Linked DNA regions of Homo sapiens. The protein of the gene in region 1 purifies or fractionates together with the protein of each later gene. This does not show direct contact. Each region holds a gene or a part of one and is shown in the gene's direction. Other genes may lie near its edges.

Region 1 (3,978 bases):
GCTGTGCAGGGTTGTAGCCTAGGAGCAGTAGGCTCTACTATACAGCCTAGGTGTGCAGTGGGCTGTACCATCTAGGTTCGTGCATTACAGTATGGTGTTCACATGACAAAATCGCCTAGTGATGCAATTCTGAGAATATATCCCTGTTGTTAAGTGACGCGTGACTATTTTGGGGGCTTGGTTTGCTTTTAAAGACCTAGTGCTTCATATCCTACCGTTTGAGAGATGAGTAGATTTGGATGGTGATTTATAATGTTTCCTTTTAGGTGTCTGCTGTTTTATAAGTAAGCAGGAACCTCTAGCAGTGGAGCCATACCTTCCCCTTCCTATTTATATTTCAGTACATTAATTGCTTTATCTTGTCAACTTCATTTTGGGGTCCTTGTTCTCATCAGTTAGTGAATGATGAAGAATTAACAGCACAAAATTATATCCGGACTGTTTCTTTTCCTTTCTAATATATTAAGATTCTATTATGTGTTGTTTTTTTTTAAACCTAGGTTTTATTTTTCCTTTTGAAATGGAGTCTTGCTCAGCCGCCCAGGCTGGAGCAGTGGTGTAATCTCAGCTCACTGCAACCTCCACCCCCGGGTTCAAGCAATTCTCCTGCCTCAGCCTCCCGAGTAGCTGGGAATATAGTTACGTGCCACCATGCCCAACCATTTTTTGTATTTTTAGTAGAGACGGGGTTTCACCATCTTGTCCAGGATGGTCTCGATCTGTGGACCTCGTGATCTGCCCAAAGTGCTGGGATTACAGGCGTGAGCCACCACGCCCGGCCAGGTTTTATTTTTTAACTCTTGAATGCAGAAATGTTAGTGCTTACTGGTTAAAATAGAACATAGTATTTATATATTACTTTAGTGCTTTATTGAAAATATCGGAGGTGGGATAAACAGAGAGATAGGGTTGGAAGGAGAGTTTGTAGCAGCAGTGTAATTTCTGTGTCAGATTCTGGCCAGGAGTGAAAATGCAGGGCATTAATTAGTATCTCCCCTCATGGATTTCTGTGGTTCCTTTCTCGGTTGTCCTTAATGTTAGGTGCCCCTGGGCGCTGGGATTGCTCTAGCCTGTAAGTATAATGGAAAAGATGAGGTCTGCCTGACTTTATATGGCGATGGTGCTGCTAACCAGGTAATTATGTCTCTTAACTTCCCAAAAACAGTCTTATTTTCAAAGTCTTTAATATTTACAGTTGAATTTCTAAAGAAGTAGCATATTGCTTATTAGGTGAAATAGCAAGTCCTATGGCTAGCTCAAATTTGGTTGACTTATGGCCAGATTAGAGATTGACCTCTTAGCGTTGTTTCACAAGAGACTTACGGGGGCACATTCCTGTGAAGGAGCTCACCTTTGCTCTACATCAGTGCTTGGCAAAGGCCCTGTGGTAAAGGACCTCCCCACAACCTATTGCAAAACAATACAGACCCATTCTCTTGGATGTCCGGGCTGGCAGTGTCAAATTCGGATAATAGCGTCTGAGTCCTAACTCAGTTTCTATGCTTCTCTTGTTACCGAGTAATCCCCAGTCTGTGGCCAGCACTCTGTGAAGCCCTGTTCTAGAGGCTGATTCTTAGGTGCTGGTTCACTCTGGCTATCCAGTGGGCCTGATAGATTTCATATTGATCTTTTTTCCAGTGTGTTCCTTACTGCTAGCATGGCCCCAAAGAAACAAGTAGTAGTTGGTTTGTCACCTTCCTTAGTTGCAAGAGTATGATGCCTGCTACTTCTCCTCCACCACCCACCCCGCTTTCCCTCACCACCCAAAGCTCGGTTTTAGAAGAGGAGGCTTTCTGTGCTTTATGAAAGCTTTCTGTGCCAGGCAGAGCAGCAGCTGTTAGAGATGATGAAGCCTGGAGAAAGAAGCCAAATGAAACCCCTTTTCGTAACTACTTCCAGGGCCAGATATTCGAAGCTTACAACATGGCAGCTTTGTGGAAATTACCTTGTATTTTCATCTGTGAGAATAATCGCTATGGAATGGGAACGTCTGTTGAGAGAGCGGCAGCCAGCACTGATTACTACAAGAGAGGCGATTTCATTCCTGGGCTGAGAGTAAGGACACCTGTGGTGGGGCCGGGGCCAAGGCCAAGGCCAAGGGTATGTCCTTGTGCAGACCCTTGACGATCTTAGAAACATTGGAGAGTTTCATTCTCATACAGGAGCAGGTCATGTGAAAGTAAAATGGTTTGGGGCAGTTGGATTCATGCTTCGCCCCTCCCCTGTTTATTACCAGGTGGATGGAATGGATATCCTGTGCGTCCGAGAGGCAACAAGGTTTGCTGCTGCCTATTGTAGATCTGGGAAGGTAAGGCTCTAAAGCCCTCTGGGCTAGTGACATTTATCTCTGGAAGTTCAAAGACTGCCTCCCATGTGCCTGCTGAAGCTGTTAGTGGGTACCTGCTAATTGAGGTGCATGAGATGGAAGCAGAGTGAAGGGAGCAGGGCTCCTTTGGGTAGCTTGGTCTTGGTAGCTCACCTGCTGGGAAGCCTACGTTTCTCTCATTTGGGGGAAGTCCGTTCTGGTGCTTCCTCTGCTTTGGCCTGTCTTCATGACAACTGATTTGCCTTTTCCTTAGGTTAATTCTGTCCCTCCTCCCCACCCCCCATTAATCATGAGTCCCTTGAAGGAACAGATTGGGGATCCCCACAGTGTCCAGCATAGAATGTCATGTATACAATAGGCATTTAATATGTGTGTCTTATACAAATTAAACAGTATGGTAGAAGCTCGTAATCTTAGTCTTGCTCAGTCCTAAGGATCTTTCCCTTTTCAGTGTATGGCAGTGAGGGAGATGGTAAGAGGGAGACTGGCCTAAAGAGGTTTCACTTCCTTTGGCACTAGTATAGGCTTAGGAGGTTTGGGTGTTCTCCCTAAATCAGTGTTCTACAGCCCAGAAACAAGGTTTCTGAAGTTGGCACTTCAGCGCCATACCATGTACGTTTAGGCAGTGATGTGAATCAGATGTGGCCAGCAATGATGGAAATGTCACAAAGTGGAGAGACAGGGAAGTGAGGGTGGGAATGTAGTAACATTAAATAAGAGCTAATGAGTAGAATGAACTAGAGCAGGACCAAGACTACAGCTTGGGTACAATGGGCTGAGCAGTCTATGTCAGGACCCTAAGGCTGGGAGTGCCAGGCCCTGAGTGATGGGTATTGACGCCACCTCTCCCAATTCCTGAAAAGAATACATGGGGGCCAGCCCTGGCTGGAGACAAGGGGAGTTGTAGAATGTAGTTGTAGAATGTGTGACTTTCCCAAACAGATAACCTTCACAATTCTGAGTTAGGTGTTATTGTTTTGCCCATTTTGCAGACAAGGAAACTGAGCCATAGAGCAGTTAAAGGTACACAGCTACTCTGTCTTGGAGCCAGCTCCCCACTCGCCCATTTTAACTGCTGCACCAAACCAACCAAGGATCCTCAATGTTTCTCCACCCCAGTGTTCAGAGCCGTCTCCTGGAAGTGGGCTAGTGTAGAATGAGCGAGCCCAACTGTCCAGACTCCCAGCAGAGCCTTGGGGTTTGGGTAGCAGAGGTTGTTGGTGCCTGCCAACTTTGTTACACACTAGCAAGGTCTGTGAAGTAGGAGTGGCTGCCAGCCCCACAACACACCATGAGAAAGGAGCATGAGATGGAAATCTGTCTAGCCAATAGCAGGAGGCTCTAGAACATGCTCAGAGCCTTTTTCTTTTTTCACAGGGTCTCGCGCAGTGGCACACTCACAGCTCACTGCACCCTTGACCTTCCAGAATCAGGTGATCCTCCCAAGTAGCTGGGACTACAGGCGCACGCCACCATGCCTGGCTAATTTTTGTATTTTTTGATAGAGATGGGGTTTTGCCATGTTGTCCAGGCTAGTCTCGAACTCCTGGGCGCAAGTGCTCTGCCCACCTCAGCTTCCCAAAGTGCTGGGATTACAGGCATGAGCCACCATGCCTGGCCTTCAAAGCCTTTTTGATTCAAAACAAGCTGTT
Region 2 (5,313 bases), on another chromosome or scaffold:
CTCACACCTGTAATCCCAGCACTTTGGGAGGCCGAGGAGGGTGGATCACAGGGTCAAGAGATAGAGACCATCCTGGCCAACGTGGTGAAACCCCGTCTATACTAAAAATATAAAAATTAGCTGGGCATAGTGGCATGCACTGTAGTCCCAGCTATTCAGGAGGCTGAGGTAGTAGAATCGCTTGAACTGGGGAGGCGGAGCTTGCAGTGAGCCGGGATCGTGCCATTGCACTCCAGCCTGGCGACAGAGCAAGATTCCATCTCAAAAAAAAAAAAAAGTGTCTCTTTCTTCCACTACCTTTTTTTTTTTTCTCTCTCTGAGACAGAGTCAAGCTCTGTCGCCAGGCTGGAGTGCAGTAGCATGATCTCGGCTCACTGCAACCTCCGCCTCTCGGGTTCAAGCAATTCTCCTGCCTCAGCCTCCTGAGTAGCTGGGGCTACAGGTGCACGTCACCATGCCCAGCTAATTTTTGTATTTTTAGTATAGATGGGGTTTCACCATGTTGGCCAGGATGGTCTCAATCCCTTGACCCTGTGATCCGCCCGCCTTGGCCTCCCAAGGTGCTGGGATTACAGGCGTGAACCACCACGCCTGGCCCACTACCTTTTATTTAAAATGATACGTCTTTTTTGCTGATTATTAAACTATTCAGTTAAAAAAAAAAAGCTAGGAAAATTCAGAAATATAAAGAAGGAAAATTTGTGATTCACTACCCCGAGGAAGACCAAAGTGTTAACTGGTTATTTTCTTCCTTTGAATGTATACTTTCATACCTTCCTTTAATGAGATTGAACTCTTGGCCAGGCATGGTGGTCAGTACTTTGGGAGGAGTAATCCCAGCACTTTGGGAGGGTAAGGCAGGAGGATTGCTTGAGCCCAGGAGTTCAAGACCACCTTCAGCAACAAAGTAAGACTCCATCTCTACAAAGAAAAGAAAAAATTAGGTGGGTGTGGTGGTACACTTGTGGTTCCAGATGGTGGGAGGCTGAGACGGGAGGATCACTTGATTCCAGGAGTTTAAGGCTGCAGTGGTTTGTGTTCGTGGCACTGCACTCCAGCCTGGGTGGCAGAGCAAGACCCTGTCTCAAGAAAAAAGAAATTGAACTCTCCCCAAAAATGATGTGAGAATTTAACTGTGGAGGAGACCAGATACTCTTGGGTGATGTGACCTGTGATACTTCTCCTAGTAGACACTGAATGATGAGAAGCTGGGGATCATAGGAATAGCTGTATTTTTCAAATGTTTGTTGGTAACGAGTGAGGAACCTGATGCATCCAGCTCCAGAGTAAGGTTTATTTGCCATGGTAACACTGGATAAGTACATTGTTGCCTGTATTTCCAAGTAATTTATCATTTCTGTATTTTAGTAAACATACATATATACAGAAAAGTGCACAAATAAGTGGACGGCTTAGAGAATTTTTATAAACCCAGAGGCCCTCTTAGTCTCCTTTAAGTCATTATCATCGATGCCCTGATGCTTGCGTAGTGAGTCTTCTGATTTCTAGAACTGTAGACTAATTTTGCCTGATTTGGATTTTGTGTAAATGGAATCATACACTGTGTATTCTTGCGTATCTGGTTTCTTTGACTCAGTGTTGTTTGTGAGACTTTGTGTTGTTGTGTACAGTTGTAACTGGAGTTTCCATTGCTCAGTAGTATTATGTGATATATCATAATGTATTTAAGTAAAAAGACTGAGTTTTAGGGTATGTGTCTGTATTCATTTGCTAGGGCTGCCGTAACAAGTATCACAGATAGAGTGGCTTAAACAGAAATTTATTTTCTCAATTCTGAAGGTTAGAAATCTGAGGTCAAGCTGTCGGGAGGATTAGTTTCTTCTGAAGCCTCTCCTTGGTTTGTAAATGACTGTCTTCTCTTCCCTGTATCTTCACAGGATCTTTCCTCTGTATTGGCTGTGTCCTATTCTCCTTTTCTTTTAGGACACCAGTCGTATTGGATTGAGGCCCACCCTTATGACCTCACTTAACCTCAGTTACTTCTTTAAAGGCCCTGTCTGCAAATAAGTCACATTCTGATATATTGGGGATTAGAATTTCAACTTAAAAATTTTAGGTGGACACAGTTCACTTCATAAGAGTATCTATTCTGCTCTAGTAGATATGGCCAGTTTTCAAAAGTTGTACCAGCGTATTCTTCCACCAGCAGTATATAAGAAGTCCAAATATTCCACATCCTTGCTAGCACTTGTAACTTTTTCTCTCTAATTTTAGTTCCCTCTGGTAGAAAGCCATTTCTTTATGGCACCATGGTACAGCTTGTTTACTCACCAGTGTAGGGGAACCTCAAGGGACTGGGGAAGGTTATCCTGGAGTAAAACGTGTCAGTTTGAGACTACCTCTTGTAAATGCTACTTAAATCCATTGGGGTTAAAAGCAGAGGTTCGGCCAGGCACAGTGGCTCATGCCTGTAATCCCAGCACTTTGGGAGACCGAGGTGGGCGGATCACTTGAGGCCAGGAGTTCAAGACCAGCCTGGCCAACATAGCGAAACCCTGTGTCTACTGAAAATACAAAAAATTAGCCAGGCGTGGTGGTGGGCACTTGTAATTCCAGCTACTTGGGAGGCTGAGACATGACAATCGCTCGAACCTGGGAGGTGGATGTTGCATGAGAATCGCTTGAACCTGGGAGGTGGAGCTGAGATTTCACCACTGCACTCTAGCCTGGGCGACAGAATGAGACCCTACCTCAAAAAAAAAAAAAAAAAAAAAAAGGAAAGAAAAGAAAGAAAGGAAAACACCGCTTCAGTCCAGTGAATGAGCAGTTAGTCTTCCATAGTTGCCCATAGCTTACTTTTATAGTCTGGACTCCATTCCTGGTGGTGGAATTGGCCTGTGAAAGAGTAATCTGTGGGGTGTAGATCTAACCATAGTAGATGGTGCTTTCATTCCAACTCTCTTTTTTGGTCAGACACTTGAGCCCTTAGAATATCACATTCTATCGTACATATGCTAGAAATAGGTCTGTTTTGCATATTCTGACTGACCCTTCAGATATTAGTGGGCCTTTCACCACCAGCCTTTTGGCTGCGTGATCTTCAGCTTTGTGTATCCATTATAGACCTTAGTTTGATTGAAATAATATTACATGACTTTGCCTGTCTTCCAACTCTAAGCCACTTGAGGACAAGGATGAATCATTATTCTAGAATGGATCTTGAAATATTACTAAGCTTTTGTTTAAATTTTTTCCAGTTCTAGCTTTTCAGAGTAAGTTACCGTTTATAGCATGTAAGTTATGCTTCTGGGTCAGTGGTTAATATATGTGGGTTTCCTGAATGATGAACTATGTGTTCTGTGTTCATTTAACAGGTTTTTCTTCTCTACTATAAGAAAACACTGTTGGCCCCTGTGGAGAATTATTCAGGAATAATTGTAAATACAGGGCAGATGAGAGTTACTTAGTTTAGAGTTGTTCAATGCCTGGGGTGGTGAGGGGCATGTTGAGTGGATTTTTAAATAAATTGGTAGGCAGGTGAGAGTTGGGAAACCATTATAGTTGGAAAGAATGGCATAAGTCAATGAATGGATGTAGGGATTGCAGTAGCTCTAATTTGGGAATGACTGTATGTATGGAAACCAGATCCTGGTAGGGAGGGCAGGCACTGCAATCCCTTGTTAGAGGATTTAAGTTCAACCAAGTGGCACTTCACTCTGTAATGCTGGAATAGACACAGCATAATCCTGTCACTTGAACCTCACAATTAAGTCAGATAGTACCCCAGTTATGGGTGAGGAATGGCTTTGATGTTGTAATTTGTCTAAAGAAACCATACATTAAGAGCTTAGTGGGCTAGGATTGAAATACTACAAGAGTTGTGCTTAAACTTTCAGAGAGTTGCTTCTTCAGAAGTGGCTTTAATGAAAAGTTAAACATGGGAGCTGGTTAGGGGAGGTGGGATAGAGGAAGAGAGCAGTTAGTTTGGTTTTCCTCTTTAGCCAGCCCATTGTGGGCTCCTCTTAGCAATTTATGGGCAGTCTGTTTTACTGGTTAAATGCCTGAGATAATCTAGGGTTGATATCAAACTATCGAAGATAGTTCTTATGTAACTGTTTTACTAGCTATCTGCTTTCCAGTTTGCCTTACCAAAAAGAAAAAAAGGCAGGAATCATCCTGGTCTCTCGTTAGAGACTAAACTTTTGGCTTAGTACCTGGGTTCAGAAAGCTTGATGACAGTGGTGCATCGTATTGAAGAATCTATTGATCCAGGAGTGAAGTCCTCTTCACAAGAATTGCCTTCCAAGACACTCTTCTTTGTGTAAGTTGCCTTTGCCTTTTCCCTCCCAGCAGGAATGCAGTACTCAGAGCAAAGTACATAAACAATGTCTTTACATTTCATAGAGGTTGTTACCTTGTTTAAACTTCACAATTTAAGCAGCATTTGATTTGTCTCTTTTTTTTTTTTTAGATGAGGAAATGGACTAAAAGGTCATGCTCAGTATCTTGGAGCCACTGTGTGTTAGTGGGACTGGGACTAGCATCCAGTATTCCAAGTTGACAGATAATTCTTTAATAATGGCAGAAGAATAATAGCATCTTCTGCGGAAGAACAGCCTTTGTACATTTTATCATTCAGTTTTATTTAAATGTTTTTAAAAGAGGGATTTCAGACTAGTCTGTTTCTTTTGAAACATAGATTTTCAGGTGGTGAATCTTCAAGCACTATCAGACAGAATAAGCTAGGTTATGCTGTAGTAACCAATAACCTCAAAGTGGTCAAAAAGAGCATGGGTTTTCTAGAGGCTCTGCATCATTCTTACTCCAACCAAAGGAGCAGCCGTGATAGGAGTATTGATGGCTGTCTTGGCAAAGGGAAAAAGAACTGTTGGAGGCAGTTAAATTCCAGCACGTACAGTTTAAATCCAGCACATACAGATAAATTTAAATACTGTTAAATAAAGTTATTTAACAGTATTTAAATTTAAAAAAATTTAAATACAGTTGAATACAGTTAAATTCCAGCACAGGAATGACACATTATTTCATGTCACTTCTGCTTAGGGTTCATTGGCCAAAATGAGTCACACCACACAAGGAATCAAGTGTGATCCTACATGTGTGGACTTGGAAGGCACGGAGTTGGAAATATTTGGGAAATAGCACTAGTATCATACTTGGCTTATAATATGTAATAGCTATTGGGGGAAATAGCTCTCATTTGCAGAATCTCTTTCTACAAATCAGCTGGTAATTTAAATGCTAAAAAGAGCTTAGTTATAGATACTGTGTTGCCCGTCTTTACTCACTAATCACCTTCCGATCCTAAGAAATTTATTTATTTATTATTTT

What was found. The genes of interacting proteins can lie anywhere in the genome.
Region 2: the proteins of PDHA1 (region 1) and RAB7A fractionate together in Homo sapiens (co-fractionation; 3 studies listed by BioGRID, with this or other methods). This does not show direct contact.

Annotation. Positions count from the first base shown.
Region 1 is NC_000023.11:19,353,450-19,357,427, forward strand, and holds part of PDHA1 (pyruvate dehydrogenase E1 component subunit alpha, somatic form, mitochondrial isoform 1 precursor), read left to right. Parts: intron 1-1,041; coding exon 1,042-1,134; intron 1,135-1,899; coding exon 1,900-2,055; intron 2,056-2,236; coding exon 2,237-2,308; intron 2,309-3,978. UniProt on the Homo sapiens protein: The pyruvate dehydrogenase complex catalyzes the overall conversion of pyruvate to acetyl-CoA and CO(2), and thereby links the glycolytic pathway to the tricarboxylic cycle.
Region 2 is NC_000003.12:128,731,741-128,737,053, forward strand, and holds part of RAB7A (ras-related protein Rab-7a), read left to right. Parts: intron 1-5,313.